Regions from separate parts of the Homo sapiens genome. Here all the other regions are linked to region 1. The links come from fine-mapping of genetic effects on gene expression. A gene starts in region 1. Each other region holds a variant in brackets. All regions are shown on one strand. Distances are between the middles of the regions.

Region 1 (2,762 bases):
CACCTCTTGTAAGTGAAAAACCAAGTTCAGAGCCCAAAAAGTTTGACTGCATAGCCCATGTGTCTAGCCATTACTTGGGTGTTCCTGAATACTTTTAATTCCCCAACTACTAAAAAATCTCGTTACTAGGAGTTGGGTTATGCAGCGAAACGGATGAACAATGGATTATAACTGCCAGAAAGTCGAGGGTCTCATACTAGCAACAGCATAAAGCCCTGCTTCTTATTGGGAGCAAAAAAGCAGATTCTCCTTCCACAGTCTCCTTTTGGATTTTGCAACGGAGAACTCTGTGGAGCTGCTGGTTCACGTAAAAGATCAGGATCCCTCTCGTTGCCAGAGGACACAGAAGAGTAGGAAGCTTTTGTTTTCAGAAAGAAGGTCCTCAACCCCACCTCTTCGAAGGTGTTTCCCCGAATTTCTCGAGGACAAAGAATCTGGACTCCTTTGAGAGTAAAGTTTCCTTTCCACTCCCTGAAGAGCGGGGAAAACTTCCGTCTTTAGTCTCCTTCCGGTTAAACTGACAAGTATCACAATCCTTTCTCCCCTATCTTCGGGCGGTTCCGGCTGGGAACAATACCCTCAGGGTCAGGAGGACAGGATCTGAGTGCAGGCCAGCCAAAAAGGTGGGAACAGATGCTCCTTCCAACACCTAAATGCTTTTTTAAACGGTCACCTGGATGTGCAGCCAGGGCCAACTATCCCTCAGCTCCTCCCTGTCACAGGTGCGCGCTGCCCACAGATTGCCACGACTGGGGGGCTCCCTACCAGTCGCAGCCCACCCTCGCCTCAGGTCTTCTCTCGCGTCCCCGGGCGGCCGCCTGCGCTAACGACCACATGAAAACGTCTCAGCACCCAACACCATCTCTCTATTTCATCTCCATCAGCGATGGAGAGAACGGATTTTGCCGCGGCTGGGCTGCACAGCAGCGCCGCGGTCCACAGCAGAGCCCGCGACCGCCATCTTAGGCAGTTCCAGGAAGCGGCCATTTCAGAGCGCACCGCTTAGCCGCGGCGGCGGCTCTGCTTCTCACCTTCACCGAGGCCTGAACAGGGTCAACAGCCAGTCGTCGTGGACTGGAGGGGGAGGGGAGAGAGGGAGGGGAATGAAAAACAAAACAGAGAGGAAAGAAGGATTCGGGGACAGGGTGATGCTCTCAGCTCAGGGATATCGCCTAGGCCATCTCCATAGAGATCCGATTCGCGGCTGGCGCGGTCGCCGGTCTGAAGATAAATTTAGCACTCTAGAGCACCCGAACCCTACAATCTTCACGAGCGACTCTGCCGCCGCCCAATCAGCGCCAGATTTGCGTCCCGCCACCAATCCGCGCTGAGCAGCGGGGCGGGACCAAAGGAAAGGACCAAGCTCGGTTGAGGCGCGGCCCAGCCGCAGCCGCAGTCACAGCCTCAGCCGCAGCGGCCGTGCTACCTAGGTGATAGCGGAGCGGCTGGGTAGGAAGCAATTGTTCTCAAACTTCACTAGCCCCGTCGGCGCGGACGCTTGTCGAGAATGCAGATTCCTGGGTACTGCCAGATACGGTTGGTGATCTTGTAGGGCTGGAGTGGAAGCCATGAATCTGCATTTTCATCATTTCTGGCCCTCTGCCCGGGCTGGGGTGATTCACGGGGATTCGTAGTGGCCCCAAAGGAGCACGCAGAACCTCGGCTGCTGTGCATTTATCACCTCTTTTGTTCCCGGAGGCCGCACCCCAGGTCCAGTTTACACAGCTGCCAACTCCTTTTCTTGGTTCCCACTGGAATCTAGGAAGAAAACTCGCCCTTTACTTCTCCGCCCCACACCCGACGACGGAGTGTCTAGAGGTCTGGTCGGCCTTGGCTGTGCGGAGGGCTAGGCCTGACGAGCGGGCGCTGATGCGGCGCAGACCCCGCCGGACCTCTTGGTCGGCCCGGGGTAGGCTGGGGAGCCGCGGGAACAGGACTGGATAGGGAAAGCGGCACCGCAGCGTCCACGGGCAAGCTGAAAGTCCGCTTGATGTCTTTGCATCACAGTGGCGCCCTCCCCGCAGGAACGCCCGGCCGCCTGCACCGAACGTTTGCCTGCAGGGAACGGCCAACCCGCCCTGAAATACTCTTTTTGTGGGCTGCAGCTTTCGGGTATTTTAAGCCATGGTTCTGTGCCCTTCCTTGTTTTCAAAAACACCACAGCCAAAGGCTGCGGGTTGTGTGCTTTCATTTTGTGTTAAGTTCTGTGGTGGAGACCTGGAGTCTGTTTTTCCAAATAGGCACCTTGAAATAGATACGCTTCTTAAGCGGGGAAAGTACGAGTAGGTCCTATTATTTGCAATGTTTTAGCCTTTCCAGACTCCGTACAAATGACTAAATGAAGATTGGATCGTATTTTCAGGCACTGCACCAATGATAGAAAATTCTCAACTTGGGGTCAAAAGCAAGGGCAGCTTTCGTTTTTCTTAAATATGCTTCTGATCAAATATCTAAAGTGTTGAAAGAAACCTAACCCTTAATAGCACAATTTACAGGAGTGCATAATTTCCTAGGACTGACATTTAGTTCCAAATGTTTTAAAGTCAATTACAACATCATCTCACCCTATAGTAAGCTGTCCATATATTCTCATTATTATTTTTAAATTATTTCTATTAAATCAGCTTCATTTGAACTTTAACCATAAATGCATAAATCGTTTTTGGGAAGGGGGTACAGTCGCGCTTGAAGAGCAAGGGATTTTGTCATTGCGGGAGTTGTCTGGCTTCAGAATAATATTGGAATAATATATTTTCGTGTTT
Region 2 (2,762 bases), 40 kb after region 1:
ATCTGCGTGCACATGGGGCTGAGAGTGGGGAAGGGCTGAAGCACAGCATGGCAGAGCAGAAAGAGCACACCCTTGAACCAGACTAGGTTTCCAGCCTCTTCTATTCATGATCTGTGAGGCCTTCGCTTAATCTCCCCAGGTTCCCGTTTCCTCCTTTGTAAAATGGGGATACTAATATCTTCCTTAGGGCACTATTGTGAGGATTAAATGAGATCGAGTGAACAAAGCTTCTGAAGTCCTGCTGGGTGAACGTCTTCATAAGAGGCCAAGACAATAACAATGATGACAAATCTGGGCAGGTCAGATCAGCAGCACATCCAAGGTTCACTTCGAAGCCTGTAGGACGATGCCTGGCGCTCAATAGCAAATGTTAGTTCCCGTCTCCTTCTTCCTGCTTTCCCCGGGAGTGTTTAGTCCCTCAAATAGAATCCTCTGCTGACTGCATCTCAGGGATGCATGACATAATGGGAACAATGAGAGCTTCGGAAAGCCATAGTTTGCTTTTTTGGCCCAATAACCCCATCTCTGAGAATTAGCCTAAGAAATCACCTGAAAGAAAAAAAATGTCATTTCTGCTAAGAGTTTACTACAGAATCATTTGTAATAGCAAAAAAACCCTACCATTATTCAATAATGATGTCAGTTCAATTATAGTAATTCAACTAAATGAGTTATTCTACAGTCATTGAAGTGATACTTTCAAAGGCTATACAGCAACATGGAAACTGTTTATGATTTAATGTTAAGTCAAAAGATACAGGGCAGGGTATGGTGGCTCACTCCTGTAATTCCAGGACTTTGAAAGACCAAGATGAGAGGATTGCCTGAGGCCAGGAATTTGAGCCTAGCCTGGGCAACATAGCAAGACCCCATCTCTACAAAAAAATTTAAAAATTAGCTGAGCGTGATGGTGCATGCCTGTAGTCCTAGCTATTCAGGAGGCTGGGTGACAGGATCACTTGACAGGAGTTTGAGGCTGCAGTGAGCAATGACCTTTGAGAGGGCCACTGCACTCCAGCTTGGGTGACACAGTGAGAACCTGTTTCTAAAAAAAAGAGATACATACAGAATTGTGCCTGTACTATGTCATACTATGATACAGGCCTGTATCCATAGGAGGGGCACTACTGGGAGTTTCTGTCCCCTGGGTGGTTTATTTTTGTCATCTTTACACACTGGGTTTGCGTGTTCAGA[T/G]AGGGAAATTCTCTAACCTTTTACAACTTAGTTTATTTTTTGACCAGATATGAATATTTATTATGCATAAACCTTACAAGGCCAGGAGAGAGAGCACAAGAAAAAAAAGTAAAAACAGTTTGATTCTTTAAAGTAGCAAATATTGTGATGAATTTCAACAATGCATTTCAACTCCTGTTGATGGAACTTATGCAATAAATATTAATGATAATTTAAATTAGAATTATAAAATGATCCTTCTGTCTCTATTTCACTTTGCTTAGGAAAAACGAATTATTGGATGTAAGGTATTTAGAGTAAGGCCTCACATACAGTGAAAAATCAATAAATGAGAGCTTGTGCATCACGGCACTTATTACATGGAGGCACCATTTTTACACTAATTAATGCGTATATGGCTCACAGCAATGCAGTGGGGTGGGGACCATTAGTTTTCCAACCTCAGAGATGAGGAAACACTATAGAGAAGTTCCATCACATGTCTAGGGTCTCATCACTAGCAAGAGGCAGAGCTGGAATTCCCCTGTGGACCAGGCACCAGAGTCTTGGTCCTCACCATTTCACCATGGGGCATTCTCATTAAGCAAAGCTACTATCTTTAGGGCTTCTGGGAAAGAAAACCAAGTGAGTCCCTGAGCTTTTAGGGGAAGATGGTTTTTGAGTGCCTTGGCCCCCAGGGAAGGGAGTGATGAGGGCTGGAGAGGAGGAGGAGGGGAGCAGGCCCTTGTTTCTGCTCCTTCTGGAGTGGAGGGAATGGAGACATCAGGCATGGGGAGCCTTGGGAGGACTTATTTGTTTGCTGGTGCAGGGGCTAGGGGTAGAACATCCTCGACAGACATGTTGCTAAAGTCACACATGGAGTCAGGCGGACAAGGAAGAGAATGTGAGCCATGTGGGACCAGAGGGCTGCCTCTGCTCTTCAGCTGCTCTGAGCTCTGAGGTTTTAGAACTGAATGCTTGTCTGCGCTATTTGGAGCAGCATCCTCCTCCCTACACACAACTGAGAGTCCTCAAGTGCCTTGACTTGTGCTGTCTCCAGGGACAGAAAGATTCCCAGGTAGCTGTGAGACTCCCCACAGGCTCTGAGCCCCATCAGGGCTCCATTTGAGGCAGTGTTGCCTCCCTCCCTTCAGAAGCCTGAGAGCCTCCTCCACTCTGACCTCAATGAGATAGGGAGGGGGGTGGGTTGGTGTAACTGGGGCAAGACCAGCATGAAATCAGAAACTGAGTTCGGGACAGAGCTGTCCCAGGTGAGTGAGGGACTCCGAGGATCAGGACCTAAGTTGAGGCCAATGCCCGGGTGCATGACCAGGGAAGTCCAGGTGCTGGAATTGAAAGACAACGCAAGGCTGAAGGTGAGAAGCCAGGCAGGGACCCCAGGAACAAATCCCTCACCCTCCGCCTCTTCTGGGAGTGATCTCAGGGGAGGGGGTCTTCAGGGTCTGGGCCTGAATCATGGGGTACTCACCTGAGACCAGGGGTGACGCTGGCATGGCAGAAGCAAGTTGAGTCAGAAACATGTGACAGCTGTGGTCTAAAAAGGGAAGCCTAAAGGGTCACCAAAGTGA
Region 3 (2,762 bases), 62 kb before region 1:
TAAAATGTTTGGAATGCAATCAACATGATTTGATGCTAGAATGGATGCAGAGTATGACAACAACTGAAAAAGTGTTGAGATCAGGCATCTCCCATTGGAAACTGAGAAGAAAAAGATGTCCTGGGAACAAGTTAACACTTTCAAGGAATGAGTAACTTGTCAAATGCTGCCTACAGGAGGATCAAAACCTACTGGATATAGCATTGGAGTTACTGGTGACCCTAAGAAAGTTTTGGTGTGGGGAACCAGGGGAGTGAAGCCCTACTGAGGCTTCAGAATGGGGAAAATTAGACAACTCTTTCAATTTTGCAGTAAAGGAAAAAAAAATTGGGGGCAGTAAAGACATGCAATCTTATTTTGAAGTCACCATGAAGTGAATGAAGATTAGTCACTACATGCTGATACTAAAGAAATTGGCAATCATGCAAGGTACATCCCAGTTATACCCAGATACTGCCATTCCACAGTATGGTAGATTATAAAGTACACTGTTAGGTGTCTTTAGAACAAGGTAGCAGCAGTATTATACATTCTCTATGGGTTGAATATTTTGAGTAGCTCTTGACATGTTTGGGGTGGGAAGATTAAAGCATGATTCTGTAAGCAATGACAAACCACTGCGTACCGGGTTTAGTTCATTTTTTATTGAGACGGAGTTTCGCTCTTGTTGCCTAGGCTGGAGTGCAATGGTGCCATCTCGGCTCACTGCAACCTCCGCCTCCCAGGTTCAAGCCATTCTCCTGCCTCAGCCTCCCGAGTCACTGGGATTGTAGACATGCACCACCACACTCAGCTTTGTATTTTTCTAGAAGAAAATAGGGTTTCTCCATGTTGGTCAGCCTGGTCTTGAACTCCGACCTCAGGTGATCCGCCCGCCTTAGGCCTCCCAAAGTGCTGGGATTACAGGCGTGAGCCACTGCACCCAGGCCCAGGTTTAGTTCTAAAACTTCCTTTAGCCTGATACCCTGGCTGAATTAGGCAAATTCTGGCAATAAGAATTGACTAGCTGATCCACCTAACCAGTTGCTCCTTTTGCTAGGTTAAAAATTAGTTTCCTCCCCTTCGTGGGGAGGGTTGGGCAGAGAAACAATTTACAGCCCCTTTAAAATTTAGGTAGGTTCATACAAATCTGTTTAGCTTTAAATTTTGCTGTACTCAAAGTACCCAAAAGCTTATGACTTGTTAAAACTTCAGGGGAAGATGAGTGCCATAATGCAAGATTTAGCTTCCCTGGCCCAAATAAGACAGACACAAAAACATTGATTGGTTCTGCCTCCCACCCACTGGAGCATGTGCAGGCAGCCTCTTCTGACTTCAAGGTTCTAATGGGTTC[G/A]GCAGTATGATAGTCTGCCTTGAGGGTCTCCCCAATCACCAAGAACAGGTTCTTAGGTGTTGACATCAACCAGGACTCCAGTAGCACACTTCAAGAGTCCCCATCCATGCCAATGTTAGAAGTAATCCTAGGATTGTCAGAATGTTCCAGGGCTGGAGACAAATCCTTCGTGTGTGTTTTTGGAAAACATGCAGAGGTTTAGTTGAATGAAGTCAATTTTACTGGGACACTGGAATTTTTCCAGAGGAAGCAGGGATCTTCCTGGACATTTGGGGCAGCTACTGGGAATGATGCTTGCAGGACAGCTAAGCTTATCCAGAGATCACCATGTATTTCAGTCTGACAAAAGATAAATTGTCACCAAATTTTAGTTGCTATGTGTAGCTATGTTCCTCCAAATTCATAAGACTTGTGATCTTTGATCATAAAAATCGTTTATATTGGTTAGTTTCAGTAACTCAAAGGAAATAAACACCTTAAATCTTGTGTCTCATCTTGAAGAGTCTAAAAATTCCTTCTGGAACCCAGGCTTGTACAGCAGAAAAACAAAAATTGGGAAGTCCTTAAGTCAAACTAAGGTGGGTCTCCTATACCTCAAAAACAAAGCTGACAATTCTCCCAGACTATGGATGCCATTTACAGCCACACATCACTACATCAAGTATCACAATGTTTATTGATAGATACAAGTATATAAAATCAGGGCATGAACATGACTTGATAAATTAAGTAGACTTAATTTCAATACTATAATAGGAGGGACCAATTCAAATTCTCACCATTTGTTTCACACCCACAAAAACCACTTCAAGGGCATTAACGATCTCTCAAAACTGATCAGTTTTGTGCAAGTAAACCATGTTTCTTTTAAAAAGACTTGTGCACTTGCCCAGGCTCAAGGATATTAAAATCTAGCACATAAAGCCCATTACTAGAGGTAGAAATACAGGCAATATACTATTACGGCAACAACCATCAATTACAGTTAAGAATTTTTCTGTAACAACCAAATGGATAATCAAATATTGCAACAACTCAAGTATTACTGAGCAAAGTGCATTTCTACAGTATTCAGTGTTGCTATTCAGTTTTCTAACTTAAAACAGCCTATGATAACTGGCAGCAAAGAAGGTCCTTGCAATAGACTGCCTCTGCTTGAGAACTTATGATGTAATTATTGCATGCTGCTAATATACTATCTAAACATTAAAGATACTCCTAAAATATTTGATGGTAGACTATGATTAAGACATTACACTACAAAAAAACCTTATGCAGAAGGAAATCCTAACTGACGTGCTTCTGCTTTAAATATTGTGAAAACATTACAGCGGAATGAATTTTCGCAGTGGTTAGGTCAAATGCAGTTACATCATAGCAACAGTATGTTTTGCACAATTTAAGGCTTTGGCTGGTTCTTTAGTCAGCT

Evidence for each region. PIP is the estimated chance that this variant, and not a neighbour inherited with it, causes the effect. A credible set is the group of variants that fine-mapping cannot tell apart.
Region 2: its variant is the best candidate, but not a certain one, in a credible set for the expression of ZBED5 in monocytes (Quach 2016, PIP 0.61).
Region 3: its variant is the best candidate, but not a certain one, in a credible set for the expression of ZBED5 in whole blood (TOPMed, PIP 0.55).

Annotation. Positions count from the first base shown.
Region 1 is chr11:10,856,831-10,859,592 of GRCh38, forward strand. ZBED5 (zinc finger BED-type containing 5) reads right to left here and starts at 1,223. Exons shown (of 3, transcript NM_001143667.2): 1 at 1,032-1,223. It overlaps ZBED5-AS1 (ZBED5 antisense RNA 1), which reads left to right and starts at 1,387. Exons shown (of 3, transcript NR_034137.1): 1 at 1,387-1,536. RefSeq lists enhancers at 889-1,268, 1,422-2,059, 1,569-1,658, 2,060-2,695.
Region 2 is chr11:10,896,470-10,899,231 of GRCh38, forward strand. LOC124902629 (a long non-coding RNA gene) reads right to left here. Exons shown (of 2, transcript XR_007062588.1): 1 at 2,663-2,762. Among named protein-coding and RNA genes, the nearest start is that of ZBED5-AS1, 40 kb to the left of the region's middle. RefSeq lists an enhancer at 2,753-2,762. The variant T/G (reference allele first, on the strand shown) is at 1,195.
Region 3 is chr11:10,795,064-10,797,825 of GRCh38, forward strand. EIF4G2 (eukaryotic translation initiation factor 4 gamma 2) reads right to left here. Exons shown (of 22, transcript NM_001418.4): 22 at 1,991-2,762. The coding sequence ends at 2,753. Among named protein-coding and RNA genes, the nearest start is that of SNORD97, 5.2 kb to the right of the region's middle. The variant G/A (reference allele first, on the strand shown) is at 1,334.